Homo sapiens: one gene and its partner. The protein of the gene in region 2 interacts with the protein of the main gene of each other region in a pairwise test. Each region holds a gene or a part of one and is shown on either strand. Other genes may lie near its edges.

Region 1 (5,116 bases), on a different chromosome or scaffold from region 2:
TCCCTCCTAGCAAGTCTTCCTCACATGGCGATTACAACTTGCTAACTTGCTAATCTAACCTTGCCCTGGGCTACCTGAGACCACCCAGGCTCCTCTTTGCCTTTGGGATGGGGTCCTACATAACTCCTGAGCATGAATAAAGAGGCTGCCTCCTCCTCCTGGGAGGTGTCTTTCACCAAATTCTGTCTCTGCTATTCTCAAACTTCCAGTTTCTCAATGTGTCATTCTCTTTCCACTTCTCAGTGCTTTCCTGAGGGCTGTTCCTCTAGCAATGTAATTCCTCTCGCAGAATTCAACTCAGGCATCAGCTTTCTTAGAAATCCTTCATTCACCCTCTCTCTGCCTTTTGCCCCTTGGGACATTAGCTCAGACCCTGCACACCTATGCACATCTTCATCCTTGGACTTACTATACTCATTGGACATTACCTGCTTATCGTTCTGCCTGCTAGATTGCTAGCTCCTTGTTTAGCTTGCTACCTCAGCATCCACAACAGCATCTGACAGATAGCTGTGCTCTGTTAATAGCTGCTGAACAGAGTGGAACTGCTACCTCTCCTTGGAGCACCTGTCCTCCACCCGCTTCCTAGTTCTCTATATGGTAGGAGCCTATTGAGCCTTCAAAATCCAGCCCCAAAACCCTTCTTTTAAAATATCTTTCTGTTAGGCAGAGATAGTCATTCTCTTCTCTTGTTACTTTTCTATCCATACATCTACTAAAGCAGCTACCACAGTATAATACATTGGCTTTCGTATTCTTTTACCCAGTAGACTGTGAGTCTCTAATCCACGGCTTCTCATTTCTATATTCCTACTGCCCTTCCCAGTGCCTGACATACATTTTTTTTTACTAGTGTATTATTCATCTTCCCCATTGGAATGTAAACTCTGAGGGCAAAGACCTTGCCTGTCTTATTTGCCACCGTATTCCCAGCTCTGAAAATCATGCTTGATATAGAACAATCAGTATTAGCTATACTTAAGTGGTCCTTAACTCTTAAAAATCAATGCAATTTAAGAGTATTGTGCACCACACTAATGGTGCTTTACTAGAGCACAAAATCACATTTCATTGCCACTTACGTTTATTTACATGCTATATTCTTTTTTTTTTTTTTTTTTAAAACAGGGTCTCACTCTGTTGCCCAAACTGGAGTGCAGTGGCGTGATCTTGGCTCACTGCAACCTCTGCCTCCCGGGTTCAAGCAATTCTTGTGCCTCAGCCTCCCAAGTAGCTGTGATTACAGGCATGCACCACTATGCCCAGCTAATTTTTTTTTTTTTTGTATTTTTAGTAGAGATGGAGTTTTGCCATCTTGCCCATGCTGGTCTCAAACTCCCGAGATCAAGTAATCCTCCTACCTTGGCCTCCCAAAGTGCTGGGATTACAGGCGCGAGCCACCGCACCCAGCCTATATTTAAAAACAATTTTTAAAAAAATTTTTCTTTTTCTTTTCAAAATCCAAAATCAGGTCAAATACGTTCTATATTCTTAAAACAATCTCCAGAAATCACCTAATAAGGATGCTTTGTAAACATCTCTGGGAGAGAATTTGGGGATGACTGATTCTTCATCATCACACAACAAATTTGCTGCAGTCTTCTAAATGGCCTCACTTGAACATATTCATAATCTAAATTAGTTTGGGTTAGTAAAAAGATGCTTACCTTGCTCTAACCCAGGGTTTGGTGTGCATGTCCAAACCACTTCCCCAGCTGCCATGTTTTTCTGAAGCTGGTGGCAAAAAGCCCCTTTCTGGGGCCAGCTCCTCTGCAATTGCCCTGATGTGGTAGGGCTCAAATCCACAGCACCCGCCAATGTACCTGACCCCCAGGTTGTAGGCCTCTCTGGCGTATTTTTGAATATCCCATCTGGTGGCAACTCTGGGTTCCAGTCCTGTAATAAGTGGCATTATGCCATTAGGCATTATACATTCTTTTCATAAAAATTCAAGATAAGTAGCTACAAGTATGTAATTTTCAATAAATGAATTGTTTTCAATATTCAATTTTTACATTTAAGAAAAAACTTTGCTACTTTGTGTTGTATGTTCACTTTTACATGCTGTGGTATCCAGCCTTCAGGAGGTTCCAAATGACCCCTGCCCTTTGATGTTTTTCTTCTTGTGCAGTCCCCTCTTGCATTATAACAGGGCTGGTCTGTGAGATCCATAGAATATGGCAGAACTGGCATGTGACTTCAGAGTCTAGGCTATACAAAACATCATGGTTTCTGCCTTGCACTTTCTTGGAGCACTCACCCTGGGGAAAGCCAGCTGCCATGTTGCAAGCATCACATGTTTCAAGCATGTTTTCTAGCATCACAGTGAAAAGGCCCATGAGCTGAGGAACTGAGGCCCCCAGTCAACAGACAGCAAGAAACTGACACTAACTCCCAAAAACCAATTAAGTGAGCTAGGAAGTAGATCCCCCAGCTCCCAACAGGCCTTCAGGTGATAATAGCCCTGGCAAATATCCGGACTCCAACCTCTTAGGAGACCCTGAACCAAAACCACCTAGTTATGCTATCCCTGAATTCTTGACCTGGAGAAACTGTGAGATAAGAAGTGGTTTTTCAAGCCACTACATTTTGCATTAATTTAATGTGTTATACAGCAGTAAGTAACACAAATGCCTTGCCTTTCTTCCTCTGTGGCTCCTCCAGAGTGATTGTATTTTATAATATCTTACTTGTCTAAGGGTCCCTATAAAATATAGGATAGGGTGTAAAGACCTTAGAAGGAAATAGGAGGCTGGGCATGCTCTGCCCCTGCTGACCACTCTGGCTTAATTTGTGAGATCAACCCACCCGCTCTTCCCAATCATGCTGGGAAAGTTTTTCCTTCTGCCTGGACTGCAAGTATCCCCTCACTTCATCTGCTTGGTCTCTTCATTAAAACTTGTTATACAGTCACTCGATGATGGTATCTTGCCTGCAATCCCAAAACTCTGGAGTAGCTGAGCCATATTAAAAATTGGAGAAAAGGACCTTAGAGATAACTGGTCTGATCTTATTTTCCCAATAAAGAATTTGAGAGCTAGAGGAATTTAAAGATTTTCCTAAGGTGACAGGACTTAGCAACAGAGCTGGAACTAGAACTAAATATCTGTTGATTCTCCCATGAAGGGCATCCTCACCAACCCCAAAGTATGACTCACTAGTTGTCTGTTTAGATGCTGATTCACCTTAGATTTTATATTTAAATTCAGAGATCTTTTTTGCTAGCTGGGACCATCCTTTCCTTCTGCTCTTCTCTAATACGAAGGGGCTTTTGGCTGCAGGGACAGAAACCAGGGACAAGACATGAGGAGACACCAAGCCATCTCTTCACTATGACAAAAGATCTCTGGGTATAGATTTACTTGAGTTTATATGCATATCAAATGAAGATATTGAGATGATTCATCAAATGTTGGTCTTACCAAATGGGAATTCTGGGAGATCGATGAATCCCTGCTTGTTGCAGTCAGGAGTGTGGTAAGCCAAGGGCTGGCTCATCAGGTGAGCTTTCAGTCGGGCAGCCTCCAAGCCCTCCTTCATGAGCTTCACTGTTTTTAAACTAATGGTGGGGTCAAAGTGGCAGTTCACACCAATGATGGATGCTCCTGTGAGTGGGAAGAACATGATAGACTTAGGGATGCACCAGAAACCAGCAGGGCCAGCTCTCCTCTCTTCATCAGGAATCAGGAAGTTCTTTTTTCATTTTTTGAGACACAATCTCACTCTGTTGCCCAGGCTGGAGTGCAGTAGCGTGATCTCAGCTCACTGCAGTCTCCACCTCAAGTGATCAAGCAATCCTCCCACCTCAGCCTCCCAAGTTGCTGTGACTACAAGTGTGTGCCACCACGTCTGGCTAATTTTTGTTTGTTTGTTTGTTTTTTTATAGATATGGGGTTTCGCCATGTTGCCCAGGCTGGTCTCGAACTCCTGAGCTCAAGTGATCCAACAGCTTCCCAGACTGCTGGGATTACAGGCATGAGCCACCACACCCAGCAGGAAGCTTTTAATTGGAATGATGAACTGGAAGCATAGCATTAGGTCCTCATTCCCCACAAACCTCTTACCTTTGAGTGAGAATGATTACTAGCAGGCAGGAAGTGCTTTCTGTGAAAGTGCTTTGAAGAGTCTGGTATAATTGAAGTGTAATTTGTGCACATTTGGCTGTCCATCTCTTTTTTTTTTTTTTTTTTTCTGAGACACAGACTCTTGCTCTGTTGCCCAGGCTGGAGTGCAGTGGCACGATCTCAGCTCACCACAGCCTCTGCTTCCTGGGTTCAAGTGATTCTCCTGCCTCAGCCTCCTGAGTAGCTGGGACTATAGGCGCACACCACCACGACAGGCTAATTTTTGTGTTTTTAGTGGAGACAGGGTTTCACCATGTTGGCCAGGATGGTCTCCATCTCCTGACCTTGTGATCCGCCCAGCTCAGCCTCACAAAGTGCTGGGATTACAGGTGTGAGCCACCATGCCCAGCCCTATCCATCTTTTTTCAAAAAAAAATTATTAGAATTTTTTTAAACTTCAAATTTTAGTAGTCAAACTTTCAACGTTGGACATTATGTTGCAAGCACAATAATTTTTCAACACTCCCAGCTGCTAGACTACACCTGTGTTTACCATACTGCTTGCTTGAGGTGTAAATAAATATTCCTTTTCACCAGGCCAACTTAATAAGTTCATTAGCCTTCTTGGGCACAGCAGCAGAATGTAATTTAGAAAAAAGTTTTTTAGACACGTGTTTGCTAGAAGGAATTTTGTGTCTAGGATTAATAGTTTGGGGAAAAAGAATCTCAAAAATCCTTTGACTTCAGCTACTCAATGTGGTTACTAGCCTATCAATCATTTTGACAAGCTTTTAATTTACATTTCAGCCTCCCCAGACTCACAACTATATGGGATTGTCTTCCTACAGTATTCTTGTAAAATTTGGTGCTGTGAAGTTTGATTTAGTGAGAACAAACTATGTTTTAGATATTTCATTTTCTTCAAAAACTTTCTTTATAGTCATTATGTTCTTAACTATATTTGGACCACAGATGATTTACCATGGCAATCACTAGACATGATTTTGGAAGTTTCCTCCTCCAGAAGATTTGAGAAGGCATTATGACATTAT
Region 2 (5,116 bases):
AGCCTCCGCCTCAAAAACAAACCAACAAACAAACATTATATGAGGTTTAAAAGCCACTGAAAAATTTACATAACCCAGGTGCAATAGCTCATGCCTGTAATGCCAGTACTTCAGGAGGCCGAAGATGGAGTATCACTTGAAGCCAGGAGTTCAAAACCAGCCTGGGCAACAGAGCCAGACCCCCATTTCTACAAAAAAAATACATAAAAATTAGCCAGGCATGGCGGCATGCACCTGTAGACCCAGCTACTGGGGAAAACCATTTGAACCCAGGAGTTTCAGGTTGCAGTGAGCTATAATCACACCACTGCACTCTAGCTTGGGTGACAGAGCGAGACCCTCTCTCTCAAAATAATAATAATGTATGATTCCATTTATTTGGCATTCCAAGAAAGGCAAAACTAGGAAGAAAGAAACAGATTAATGGCTGCCCGCAATTGGGAATGGAAGAAGTGGTTTACTACAAAGTAAAGGTGACTTTTGGGGGAGTAATTAAACTTTTATAACTTGATTATGGTGCTACTAGTGGTTACATGGCTAGTTTCATTTGTCGAAACTCAGAATTTGTACTAAAAAAAGGGAATTTTACTCTACGAAAATTATATGTTGATACCATTCAAAGACTGGCCAAAGCAAAACTAAAATAGCTAAATAAATAACTAAAACTAAAATATTATCAGGCAAAGTAGACTTCAAACAAGGAATATTATCAGAAATTGAAGAGGAATATTATATAAAGACAAACGGGTCAATTTACCAAGAAATCAGACAATCCTAAATGTATATGCATCCAACAACAGATCTTCAAAATACACAAATCAAAAATTGATAGAACTGAAAGTAGAAACAAATCCACAATTACATTTGCACACTTCAACACTCTTCTATCACCCTTCCAATCAGTAACTACATCAGTAAGAATATGAATATCTGTAATTGTAAGTATATACAGAACACTATCAACCAACTTGACCTAATTGACATTTACAGAATGCTACATCCTACAAGAGCAGAATACACATTATTTCCAAGTGTACATGGGACATGCACCAACACAGGCCACATTGTGGGCCATAAAACAAACCATATAAAGAATGTTCTCTACCCACAATAGAATTAAACTAGAAACCAACAAAGCAAAAAGATACCTGGAACTTCACAAAGTGGTTTTTCCAGAAGCAGAAAATTAGTACACACTTACATAATAATCAAACCCCATTTAAATAATTTCCAGGTCAAACCAACCTCCTAATATCTAATAACTCTATTAAATAAAAGCTAGATGTGACAGAACATTTAGACTATTACTTCTTTTCCCAACACTCATTTTGAAATAATATAGAATAGATAAAAGAATCAACAAGAGAGAGAAATCTGGCCAGGCGTGGCGGCTCACGCCTGTAATCCCAACACTTTGGGAGGCCAAGGTGGGCAGATCACCTGAGGTCAGGAGTTCGAGACCAGCCTGGCAAACACAGTGAAACCTCATCTCTACTAAAACACAAAAGTTAGCCAGGTGTGGTGGCGTGCACCTGTAATCCCAGCTACTCGGGAGGCTGAGGCAGGAGAATTGCTTGAGCCCCAGAGGCAAAGGTTGCAGTGAGCCAAGATTGTGCTACTGCACTCCAGCCTGGGTGACAGTGAGACTCTGCCTCCAAAAAAAAAAATAAATAAATAAATAAAAGAGAAATCTGTCTGTGCAAACATACACATACCATGAAACTGCATACAGACCTTTTTTCTGCCGGGGTTTTTGAGACTCAGTAGATACAGGAAATTGAGTTCTCTGAAATGAAATAAGTAGTCTATATTGAAGCACCACAATATAAACTTGCTAACTTAAAGAAGCATCCAAATAACAAGAATAATCAGTAGCTCACCAATTATGCAATTAATCCATTAAATCCATATTGTGATAGAGTTACTTTAAATATGGTTTAAAAAACAAATGTCAAGTCATACTTTTGCTATCCAAACTATTAACAATGTATAACACATATTTATAATATTTACAATGTGCATTTTTAATGTATAATTATAGTATATAGTAAAATGTGCATAAGAAATATACTCAGTTCTTAAACACCTCATATGAGTATTATACTTGATGCCATACTTCTCAGCAGCCAAACCAAAAAAGTGATCGCTGTTTGATAAAAGGAAGCTTATGAGATCATCTACACAGAAACTGTCTAGCACTCAATTCTAAAAGGGAGATAGTTATTTTCCACTATAACCTCATAGAAAACCATCAAATGAATTTTTCTTTTCTCAACTTCCTATGACATACCACAATATAAGCAAAAATAATGGCTCAAATTTTTCCAGATGTAATGAGAAACACCAATCCTTAGTTTCTGGATACTCAACAAATCCTGACCAGGTTAAATGAAAATAAATACATACTTAGATACATCATAGCGAACTGCACCAGAGACAAGAAGCAGCTCTTAAAAGCAGCCAAACAAGAAAACATATCACCAGATTACCAACAAAGAAAGGACAGTTATTTGAGAGGCCAAGGCGAGAGGATCACTTGAGGTCAGGAGTTCAAGACCAGCCTGGACAACATGGTGAAACCCCGTCTCTACTAAATATACAAAAATTAGCTCGGCATGGTGGCACGTGCCTATAGTCCCAGCTACTTGGGAGGCTGAGGCAGGAGAATGGCTTGAACTTGGGAAGCAGAGGTTGCAATGAGCCAAGATCGTACCATCGCCCCCCGGCCTGGGCAACAGAGCAAGACTACGTCTCAAAAAAAAAAAAAAAGGAAAGAAAGGCCAGACGCCGTGCCTCATGCCTGTAATTGCAGCACTTTGGGAGGCCAAGGCAGGTGGATCACCTGAGGTTAGGAGTTCAACACCAGCCTGGCCAACATGGTGAAGCCCCATCTCTACTAAAAATACAAAAATTAGCTGGGTGTGGTGGCAGGCACCTGTAATCCCAGCTACTTGGGAGGCTGAGGCAGGAAAATCGCTTGAACCCAGAAGGCAGAGGTTGCAGTGGGCCAAGATCACACCACTGCACTCCAGCTTGGGCGATAAGAGCAAAACTCCATTTCAAAAAAAAAAGAAGAAGAAAAAGAAAAACAAAAAAGACTGACAGCTGGCTCTTCAACAATTAAAAATGGAAGACAATATCACAATAAGACATCATAAGAATAATTACTCCAGTGTCAGGTACTAAGTAAAATGAATGTTAATTTAGACCAGAGGTCAGCAAACTATGGCCCACAGGTCAAATCCATCCTGTTTATTTGGTCTACAAGCTACGAATGATTTTTACATTTTTATATGGTTAAAAAAATTCAAAAAATAATAATTTTTAACACATGAAAATTGAGTCAAATTTCAGTGTCTATAAACAAAATTTGTGAGAACATACCCACACTCATGTTTACATAATGTCTATGGTTGCTTTTGTCCTACAACAGCATTGCTGAGTAGTTGTCAGAGAGACTCTATGGCCCACAAAGCCCACAATATTTACTATCTGGCCCTTTACAAAAAAAGGTTTGCTAACACCTGATCTAGATTCTCTCACCCATCAAAACTAATTTTCAACAACAAAGGCAAATTTTTAAAACTTTCAGAATTTGAGAGTTTTTAGATTCTCACCAAATAAACTTTTAATGAAAATATATTAGGAAAAAGAAAAATAATCCCAGAACAAAGGAGTGGAATAAGCAAAGGAATTGGTAAAATAAGCAAGTATTCTAAGCATCTACTGACTGAATAAAACAAACAAAAAGCATAATTTGTGGTGTTTAATTAAAATACATTAAGAACTACAAAACTAAACAACAATGGCATACATTTGCAGATGGCAATAGATGGTAGTAAAGCATTTGATGGTCCCTGTAGTAGCAACATTTAGGCCTGGACTTACAGTAAACATGTATTTTTTAATTTCTTTGGTACTCATTAAAGGAAGGCAAAGTATAACTTCCAAGGCATGAAATAAGAGGAGCAGAAAGGGAGGGGTAACAGATGGAAATTCAGTTTTTTTAAAAAAAAGAAAGGAGGTAGAAAAAAATGCAATTCTCCAGTTTAAGACAGATAGATCAGCCAGGTGTGGTGGCTCACACCTATAATCCCAGCACTTTGGGAGGCTGAGGCAGGAGGATCACACGAGCCTAGAAATTTGAGAACAGCTTGGGCAAAACAGCGAGACTCTGCCTCTATAAAAAAAACTTTAGAAATTAGCCAGGCATAGTGGCAGGTGCCCTTAGTCCTAGCTACTCAGAAGGCTGAGGTGGGAGGATCTCTTAAGCCCAGGAAGCGGAGTTGCAGCAAGCCATGATTGGACCACTGCACTCCAGCCTGAGGAACAGGCTCAAAACAAACAAACAGCCAGGTGTGGTGGCTCACACCTCTAATCCCAGCACTTCGGTAGGCTGAGGCAGGCCGATTGCTTGAGTTCAGGAGTTTAAGACCAGCCTGGGTAACATGACGAAACCCCGCCTCTACAGAATATACAAAAATTAGCCAAGTGTGGCCTGCGCCTGTGGTCTCAGCTACTCGGGAGGCTGAGGTGGAAGGATCACTTGAGCCCAGGAGGCAGAGGTTGCAGTGAGCCAAGATCACGCCACTGCACTCCAGCCTGGGTGACAGAGCAAGACTCTGTCTCAAAAAAAAAAAAAAAAAAAAAAAAAAAAATTGCAATGTAAATTATCACATTAAGACATAATTTCATATCCACCATGACTGGTGGCAGAAGCATAAATTGTTACAACCACCATATAGTTTCCTGTAAGTAATAAAGTTACTCCATTACCTAGCAATCTATTTCTAGGTATACCTTAGAGAAACTCTTAGATATTGCATCAGAAGACCTACATAATAATGCTCAGGGCTAGGACTAAAGTGAGGCATGTGAAGAACCTAGGGTATAAACCTTAAGAAGGTACTTACTCTTACTCCATAAAATGTGAACCCTAAGCACCTCACTTACCTTTCCTTAGTCTTGGCCATATTTATAGCAGCTTTTTTTTTTTTTTTTTTTGAGACGAAGTCTCGCTCTGCCAAGCTGAAGTGCAGTGGCACAATCTCGGCTCACTGCAACCTCCGCCTCCTGGGTTCAAGTGATTCTCCCGCCTCAGCCTCCCGAGTAGCAG

Evidence for each region. The genes of interacting proteins can lie anywhere in the genome.
Region 1: the proteins of BBS4 (region 2) and BHMT interact in a two-hybrid assay, tested with the Homo sapiens proteins (one study listed by BioGRID and IntAct).

What each region holds. Positions count from the first base shown.
Region 1 is NC_000005.10:79,124,535-79,129,650, reverse strand, and holds part of BHMT (betaine--homocysteine S-methyltransferase 1), read right to left. Parts: intron 3,606-5,116; coding exon 3,423-3,605; intron 1,897-3,422; coding exon 1,668-1,896; intron 1-1,667.
Region 2 is NC_000015.10:72,691,847-72,696,962, reverse strand, and holds part of BBS4 (BBSome complex member BBS4), read right to left. Parts: intron 1,787-5,116; coding exon 1,735-1,786; intron 1-1,734.